Linked DNA regions of Homo sapiens. The protein of the gene in region 1 purifies or fractionates together with the protein of each later gene. This does not show direct contact. Each region holds a gene or a part of one and is shown on either strand. Other genes may lie near its edges.

Region 1 (3,500 bases):
GATCTGGATAAACGCACAAGGGTTGGTAAGGACCCTGTTTAGAGTGTGAATTGGAGAAACTGAGGCAGAGTCCAGTGGCCTGGCCAAGGACACGCAGCCAATGAGAACCAACCTCTCCCAACAATGCAAATGAGCCAGGAGCAGCACTGGACCTCCATGTCTTCTCTAAGCTTTGCAGACCCTCTCCCTGGTGAACTTGGAGTTCCTTCCTAACCTTTAATTCCCTGAGCCACCAGTGCTAGCTCTGCCAATGGAGACTGAAGGAGGGTCTATAAGATGATGTCAAGGAGGGACAAGGTGGGGGATAGAACCTAGGTGACCCTCTTCCCTGGGGAAAATGCCAGAGGTTAGAGGACCATGGGATCTCCATGCTCCCCCTCCATGGGGCCTTGGCCACTCCCTTCCTCCCCCTTGCCCCGTTGGGAGCTCTTGGCCTCTCTTTGGGCAGAGTGCTCCAGTCCACATCCTACCAGACCCTTGACCCCGGGCTTCAGGAAACAGAAGCCTAGAGAACCTCAGCATGTGACCCCTCCCTGGGCCCCAGCTCCTTAGAGGAAAATTCTGCCTCCCACGCCACCATTCACACTCTCTCCAGGAAGAACTTCCTCATAGCAGCCACCCAGAGCTTGGGCTGCAGTGCAGTGCAGACAATAGTCCTTGCCTGGCACTCGATCGGCTTTTTCTTTCCCTTTTTGTGGGTTTTATTATTTTTGTTACAGGTGGGGCTGCCAGGGATGGGTTATGCCTGCAGGGGGAGAAATGATCAGAAGAGCCACAATTCTACCCTCAACCCAGGGAATGTGAGCTTTTACTGCCTCCATTTTCTTAACCAGAAATCTGGTTTAGTTTTGCTTTCAGGGCTCTTGTCATTGGAAAAAGATTAGTGCTCAGAACCTGCAGCCCAGAAATGGCCCAGTCCCATCCCTCCAGGCAGGCTCTGCTCCTCAAGCTGCGTGGGGAAATGCCATCATGGGCTTGTGCCCAGCATCCACCCTGCCAATGATGACAACAGTGATAATCGAGGCATTCATACCAACCACCATTTAGGGAGCCTTTATAGAGACTTCCCCCCAACAGTGGCCTCTTTGGCAGCTCTGGGAGACAGCCTTGGAAAGGGCGAACTAAGGGCCGAGAGAAGCAGCAACTTGCGAAGGTCACTACTGGCCAGACTGGGCCCAGTCTCCTGCCTCTTCCCACAGTGGCTGCACACCCTACTCTCTACCCCATTGCAGTAGGAAGAGAACTCCAGAATAAGGGGAGGCTCTGAACAGTGGAGTCAGGATCCGTGTTTTGACTAGTTTCAAGGTCTAGTAAAGCACAGTATCCAAGGAGGCTCAGTCCAGCATGGGCATGGGCTAGGGCTGGAGAAGTAGAAAAGAAATTTGGGCAAGTAGTGAATAAGACTGCCAAATCTATTGTTAGGAGAGCCAGGAGAGGTGTCCTAGTGGTGCCTTAGTCTATGGGAGAGACCCAGACACCATTCTGCTGGGTTCCCAAGCTGGCACCTTAAATTTAGTAGCTGATGAATCCAAGGAGCCCCCAAGCATCATCTGGCATGTTTTTTTGTATGTTTGTTTGTTTGTTTTTTGAGACAGAGTCTCTCTCTGTTACCCAGGCTGGAGTGTAGTGACGTGATCTTGGCTCACCACAATGTCCGCCTCCCAGGTTCAAGTGATTCTCTTGCCTCAGCCTCCTGAGTAGCTGGGACTACAGGCACGTGCCACCACACCTGGCTAAGTTTTGTATTTTTAGTAGAGATGGGTTTCACCATGTTGGCCAGGATGGTCTCGATCTCCTGACCTTGTGATCTACCAGCCTTGGCCTCCCAAAGTGCTGCGATTATAGGTGTGAGCCACCACACCCGGCCCATCTGGCATGTTTTATACCAACTGGAGTCAGGCCTAGAGCAGGGAGGTGGCTAGACAGTGACTGTAACCTCCATTTCCTGTCCTGGCCAAACCAATACTCAGATGGGACAGTGAGAGGAGACATCACACTCTGGTTACACACCATTAACCCCTGTCTGACTACACACACACACACACACAGCCGTCCAGATTCACAAATACGTTCTTATCACCCCCTTCATCCCTCAGTGCCTGGGTGGAGGCCCTTAAGCAGGAATGCCCCCTCAGAGGAGAGGGTGGGAGTGGAATGATGGGATTTCAGAATCCCCTCACCTCACCCTCTCACCTCCAGATCCTAGTCCAGATGTAATCCTGTCCTCACCACTTTGCGTGCACGTGCACGCACACACACATGCACACACACAGTCTCAACATTCACATACAGACACCCACTCTTGACACCCACACATGAACTAAAAGACAAACGTTGGTCCATAAAGGAACACACATGCTATCTACATACCCCCAACCCTGCCCAGTGATGCTTTCCCCAGCACTACTGCACAGATCCCAGACAATACAGACACACAGGCACTCCTTGCACACTGAGTCCTAGGCCACTTGGTTGAGCTGCCCCCACCCCACCCCAGCTGCACACTCTTCTACATCCATCCCATAAAGGAAGAGTCCGTCTCTTTAACCATGCTTCTCATGGTTTTCAGAGTACCCTTGCCCCAAATGCTGCCAACCTCCCCCTAGACTCAAGATCTTCTCTTTCCAGATCGCTGGAGGCTCAATGCCAGTGCACAGGAGGAGATCGCCTTCCACCATATTCCCTGACTCCCAGAGGCTCTTTCTAGGGCAGGGGTCTGGCCAGGAAGACTGAAGCCATGACGTCTTCCTGTGCAAGGATAGGAAAGATGTCTGTGGGTTGGAGGGTAGTTATAGGGAAGCAGCTTTCTCCACTTTTTGAGAAAGCACTTGGGAACAAGCATCCCTCTCAGGAAGTGATTCTCCACCATTCTCCTCTGATCCTATAGGCCTGGTGGTCCAAGCCTCAGGCCAGTTGATGCCTCCCACTGGGATCAGCAGACAAGGCCATGACCCTGCAGTGACCTCGACCCCATAATCAGGTCAGGTCCGGGCTTCATGGCTAGAAGCGAGGCCCAGGCGAGTGGCCAAGACGCGGCAGGACAGGAGGATGCGCCTGGCTGCTCTCGGCTGCTGGACGCGGCCTGCAGTAGGGAGAGCGCAGCCCGGGGTAATCCCACTCAGGGCTCCGGGTGCCCAGTTCTCCCACTTCCCATCCTGGCGGCCTAAAGGCAAGGCCTAGACCCTGGAGAGGCCAAAGTCGGGCCAAAACAACAGCGAAGCTGGGACTGGAACAGGCGCTGGGGGCCTGCGCATGACCCCAGGCTCAGAATGCGACACTCCAGTGACGCCGGGGAATGAGTTGAGATGGAGCCGGAGACAGAGGTTGGGGTTCAGGACGAGGCGCTTGGGTATGGGATCGGATCTGAGACGGTTGCGGCGCTGGTGCTTTGGGCTGGACCAGACTCGAACCCAGAGCGGAGCGAGGGTCAGAGCCAGGGCAAGAGTCCGAAGCCCAGCTCAGCGTCCAGCCCGCGAGAGACCCCACCATGAATGACGTCC
Region 2 (3,500 bases), on another chromosome or scaffold:
CTCCTCAGGTCTAGGTTCAGCCTGTAGCCGTTGGCGGAGCTCAGCCAGCCGTCCCAAAAGAGCAGTCACATCTTCAGAGGCCAGAGCCTGCCTGGCGCGGCCTTGCCAGCTGATGGCCCTCTCTGTGAGGCACTGCAGGGCCTCGCCCTCGGGCAGCCGCACAGGCAGTCTCTGCAGGGCTACCAGCAGTGCCAGGATGGTCTCCAGGCGCGGGCGCCTTGAGCGCATACACAGTGGACACAGGAATTTGGTGTCCCATTCCCACCAGGCCAGCAGTGGGGATGAGGTGGGATTGGGCCTCGGAGAGCTGAGGAGGCGAGGCACTGACACACACCGCCCATGGAACCAGTCCTGACACAGGTCACACTGCAGAGCTCCCGCCCCAGCCAGCACCTGCCCACACACACAGATAGAGGTTGTAGAGGAGGCCGTGCTCGATGATGCCAGTGGACTGGGCTTGGCCGAATTGGTGCGACGCAGCTGCAGGATACCCTCCTTCTCCTTCTGTTCCCCCTCCTTGAAGGCCACGATCTGCCATACCCAGGACAGGAGCAAAGTGGGTCAGCAGCCTACCCCTTCCCTTCTCTGGGCCCCCCCTTAACACCCCCACTCCCAAACCAGGAGAACTGAGGCTCAGGGGACAAGCGGTCTGCTCATGGCCACCCAGCTCAGACACTCTATCATCACCAAGCCCTTCTCCCCATCTGTGTCGAAGCTCCTTACCACAGAGCCTGGGTCCCTGAGGTCCTGCGCAGACAGCCCCAGCAGCTCTGTGTCAGATTTGTACAACCCCAGCTCCTTCTCCATCCACCGGCTGCGCTTGGTGCTGTCTGAGCCGGCATCTGCACATGGGCAGAGAACCTGGGGCAGGCAGACAAGAGAGGGAATGACTGGGCTTCCCTTACATCCCCCGCCTCCTTCCCTCCCTGGTGCCCCTACAAAACCCATGTTATCTCATGAGCCATCTCACAGAAGCCAGGGCAGGCGTTAAGAGACGCTGTAGGTCAAGGTCCCAGGCCTCACCTCCAGCAGCGTGTAGCAAGAATTTTTCTTGAGGAAGGTCTTGGAGGCCTTCTCCCTCCAGGAGTGCGCTGTCAGTACCTGTAGCTCTAGCTGTCTCAGCTCCTCCAGCCCCACAGGTAGGTCCCGGCCCACAGCTACTAGGCCCTCCAAGTCATCCAGGCAGGGGTAGTGGTCACCATTCTAAGGCCAAGGGCGAGAGACAGCTCAGTTCAACTTGCCAATGCTATTGATGCTTACTCTGTGCCTGGCCCTGAGCTGGAAAGATGAACTGGGCTCAGTCTTGAGGGATTAAAAAAATAGGTGTCATCCTAAGGAACAACCACTTGGCTCTCTCCCACAACACCGGCATCTACTGACTGGCTCAGCCCCAAATATCTAGTCAGCCTTCTGTTGTGGTTTGCCTCTTCTCCTCTCCTCCATGCCCCTGCCCTGCTCAGTCCCATACCACCTGCTTCCCTGGCCCACCAATCTCATCCTAACCAGTGCCCTCTCTTCCTTCAGGCCAGCCTCACACTCTTCCTCTCACCCTGCTCATCAGGCACATCTTGCCTCCTGACTACATGCCATGCCCCCTTCCTCTCTCCAGCCAACCCAACCCATCCCAGCAACCCAGCACATCCCAGTGTATATGCCATCTCTTCCCAGCTGGACTGAAGGCCTGGGGTGGGAGTGGCAGGGTCCTCACTTGGATCTCATCAACATCAGCAATCCAGGCCCGGGCCTTAGCAAGAGCCTCCTTGAGAGCCTGGATGTTGGGCAGGTGAACAGGGATGTTTTCCGCTTCACGGATTATGGCCTCAAGTGTGGCTGGTGGATGCTTCTGCCTAAAGGTAAGGAAAAAAAGAACGCTCAGTCTGATGTGGTCTGCCTGACCAGAAGCCCAGCCTGACCACCAGATATATCTGCATGGGCCCCTTGGGTGTCTGTTATTCCTGCTGTCACTTGGGCCTACTTGCTTGTATTCCACCTAAGGGTAGCTGCCAGTCCCTGCTTCCCCAAGACTGCATGCACCCAACTTCATCCCTTCTGCCACAGCTCTTGCACCTCTGTTTGTCTGCCAGTCTGCTGGCCTGCTAGCAATGCCTACATATACAACCTGTATTGTGTAATCTGTTGCTGCAGTTTGTCAACTGCCCTGTGTGGGGTCTTTCTACCAACATCTGCCCATCTGCCTGTCACTTGTGCTTCTGGGTATGCGCACATTAGCCTGTAGGGCTAGTCTTCTAGATAATCTCTATCTGTCCATTTCTGCTTCTCCATCAGCCTCTCTTTGCCTTTAAGTATACAGAGTTGTTTTTTAAAAAAACGACAAGATAGACAACAAAAGAGGGGAGAGTCAATACAGTAACACAGGAGCGTGATACCTAAGGCCACCCATGGGCATCCTCTTCTGGGTCTCCACTCAACTTTGATGTTTGGAATAGGGCAGGGAAGGGAAGCAGCAGCTGGACCTACCTGGCCTCCAGGCAGAGGTGGGCTTTCTCCTCCCAGCGTTCAGCAATGGTCAGCAGTTCCTGCAGCTCGGCCTGGGCTTTATCCACAGCAGGGCTAGGGGCTACACTGGCACCCGCGACCAACAGTCCTCGCATGACAGCCAAGGTGCCCCTTCGGGCTGAGGGGGCCAGTGTGCGTTTCACCTCATCCAGCCATCGCGCCTGTTCCACCTGCCGCTGGAGCTGCTGGGCCTCAGGCACCTCCACCCCCAGCTGCCGCCCCCTCTCCAACAGGGACTGCAGTAGCCCTGGACTGGAGGGCAGTGAGGCCAGGGCCTCACGAGCCTCAGCCTGGTAGGCCTCCACCTGTTCCAGAACACCCTACCAGGACACAGGATGAAGAACAAACTCCTCAGCTGGGCCCACTGAGGGGTTCCACCACCAGATGGAACCTTGTCCCACCTATCTTCTTACCCTCCAAGCTTTTGGGGCAAAGGAGCCTAACATGGGCTGAGCTCTCCTTCTCCAAGCCCTAAGACAGTTGGGGTTCCTAACACTGACTGCTCATTAGAATGCCCTGGGGAATTTAAGAATGCAGATTCCTGGGCCCCACCCTGAGAGATTCTTAATTAACTAATAATTATTAATCTATGCTTTATTTAACTTTTCAGAGGGCTCTGTTCTCAGGGCACCAAGAGACCTCCCTGCCCTAAAAATTGCTATGATTAGTCCTCACATAAACCCTTGTGCTCACCACCCTGGGGTCTGTTGCCCTCTCCATCTCACTCCTCCTCCACCTTCATGAATTTCCCTCCACTTTCCAAGCCCAACAAGCACCCCTGTTACCTCCTTCTCCTCTACCCCTCCTCCAGGAAACCTTACCTGGACTCTGTATCCTATACCCATACCCTTGCCACCTGACCCTCAAGGCCCATTTCTAACAGACAAGTCACTAGACCCTTGCCTCACCCCTCCCACCTGTTCTTTTCTCACACGTGTGTCCTGTCTTGCCTGAACACTTTAAGCTTTTGAAAGGAGCCAAGC

The links.
Region 2: the proteins of LHX6 (region 1) and KDM5C purify together in Homo sapiens (affinity purification with mass spectrometry; 3 studies listed by BioGRID and IntAct, with this or other methods). This does not show direct contact.

Annotation. Positions count from the first base shown.
Region 1 is NC_000009.12:122,222,458-122,225,957, forward strand, and holds part of LHX6 (LIM/homeobox protein Lhx6), read right to left. Parts: intron 1-3,500. UniProt on the Homo sapiens protein: Probable transcription factor required for the expression of a subset of genes involved in interneurons migration and development.
Region 2 is NC_000023.11:53,194,208-53,197,707, forward strand, and holds part of KDM5C (lysine-specific demethylase 5C), read right to left. Parts: intron 2,838-3,500; coding exon 2,479-2,837; intron 1,848-2,478; coding exon 1,709-1,847; intron 1,282-1,708; exon of another isoform or gene 1,204-1,281; coding exon 1,024-1,203; intron 862-1,023; coding exon 724-861; intron 532-723; coding exon 1-531. UniProt on the Homo sapiens protein: Histone demethylase that specifically demethylates 'Lys-4' of histone H3, thereby playing a central role in histone code. Does not demethylate histone H3 'Lys-9', H3 'Lys-27', H3 'Lys-36', H3 'Lys-79' or H4 'Lys-20'.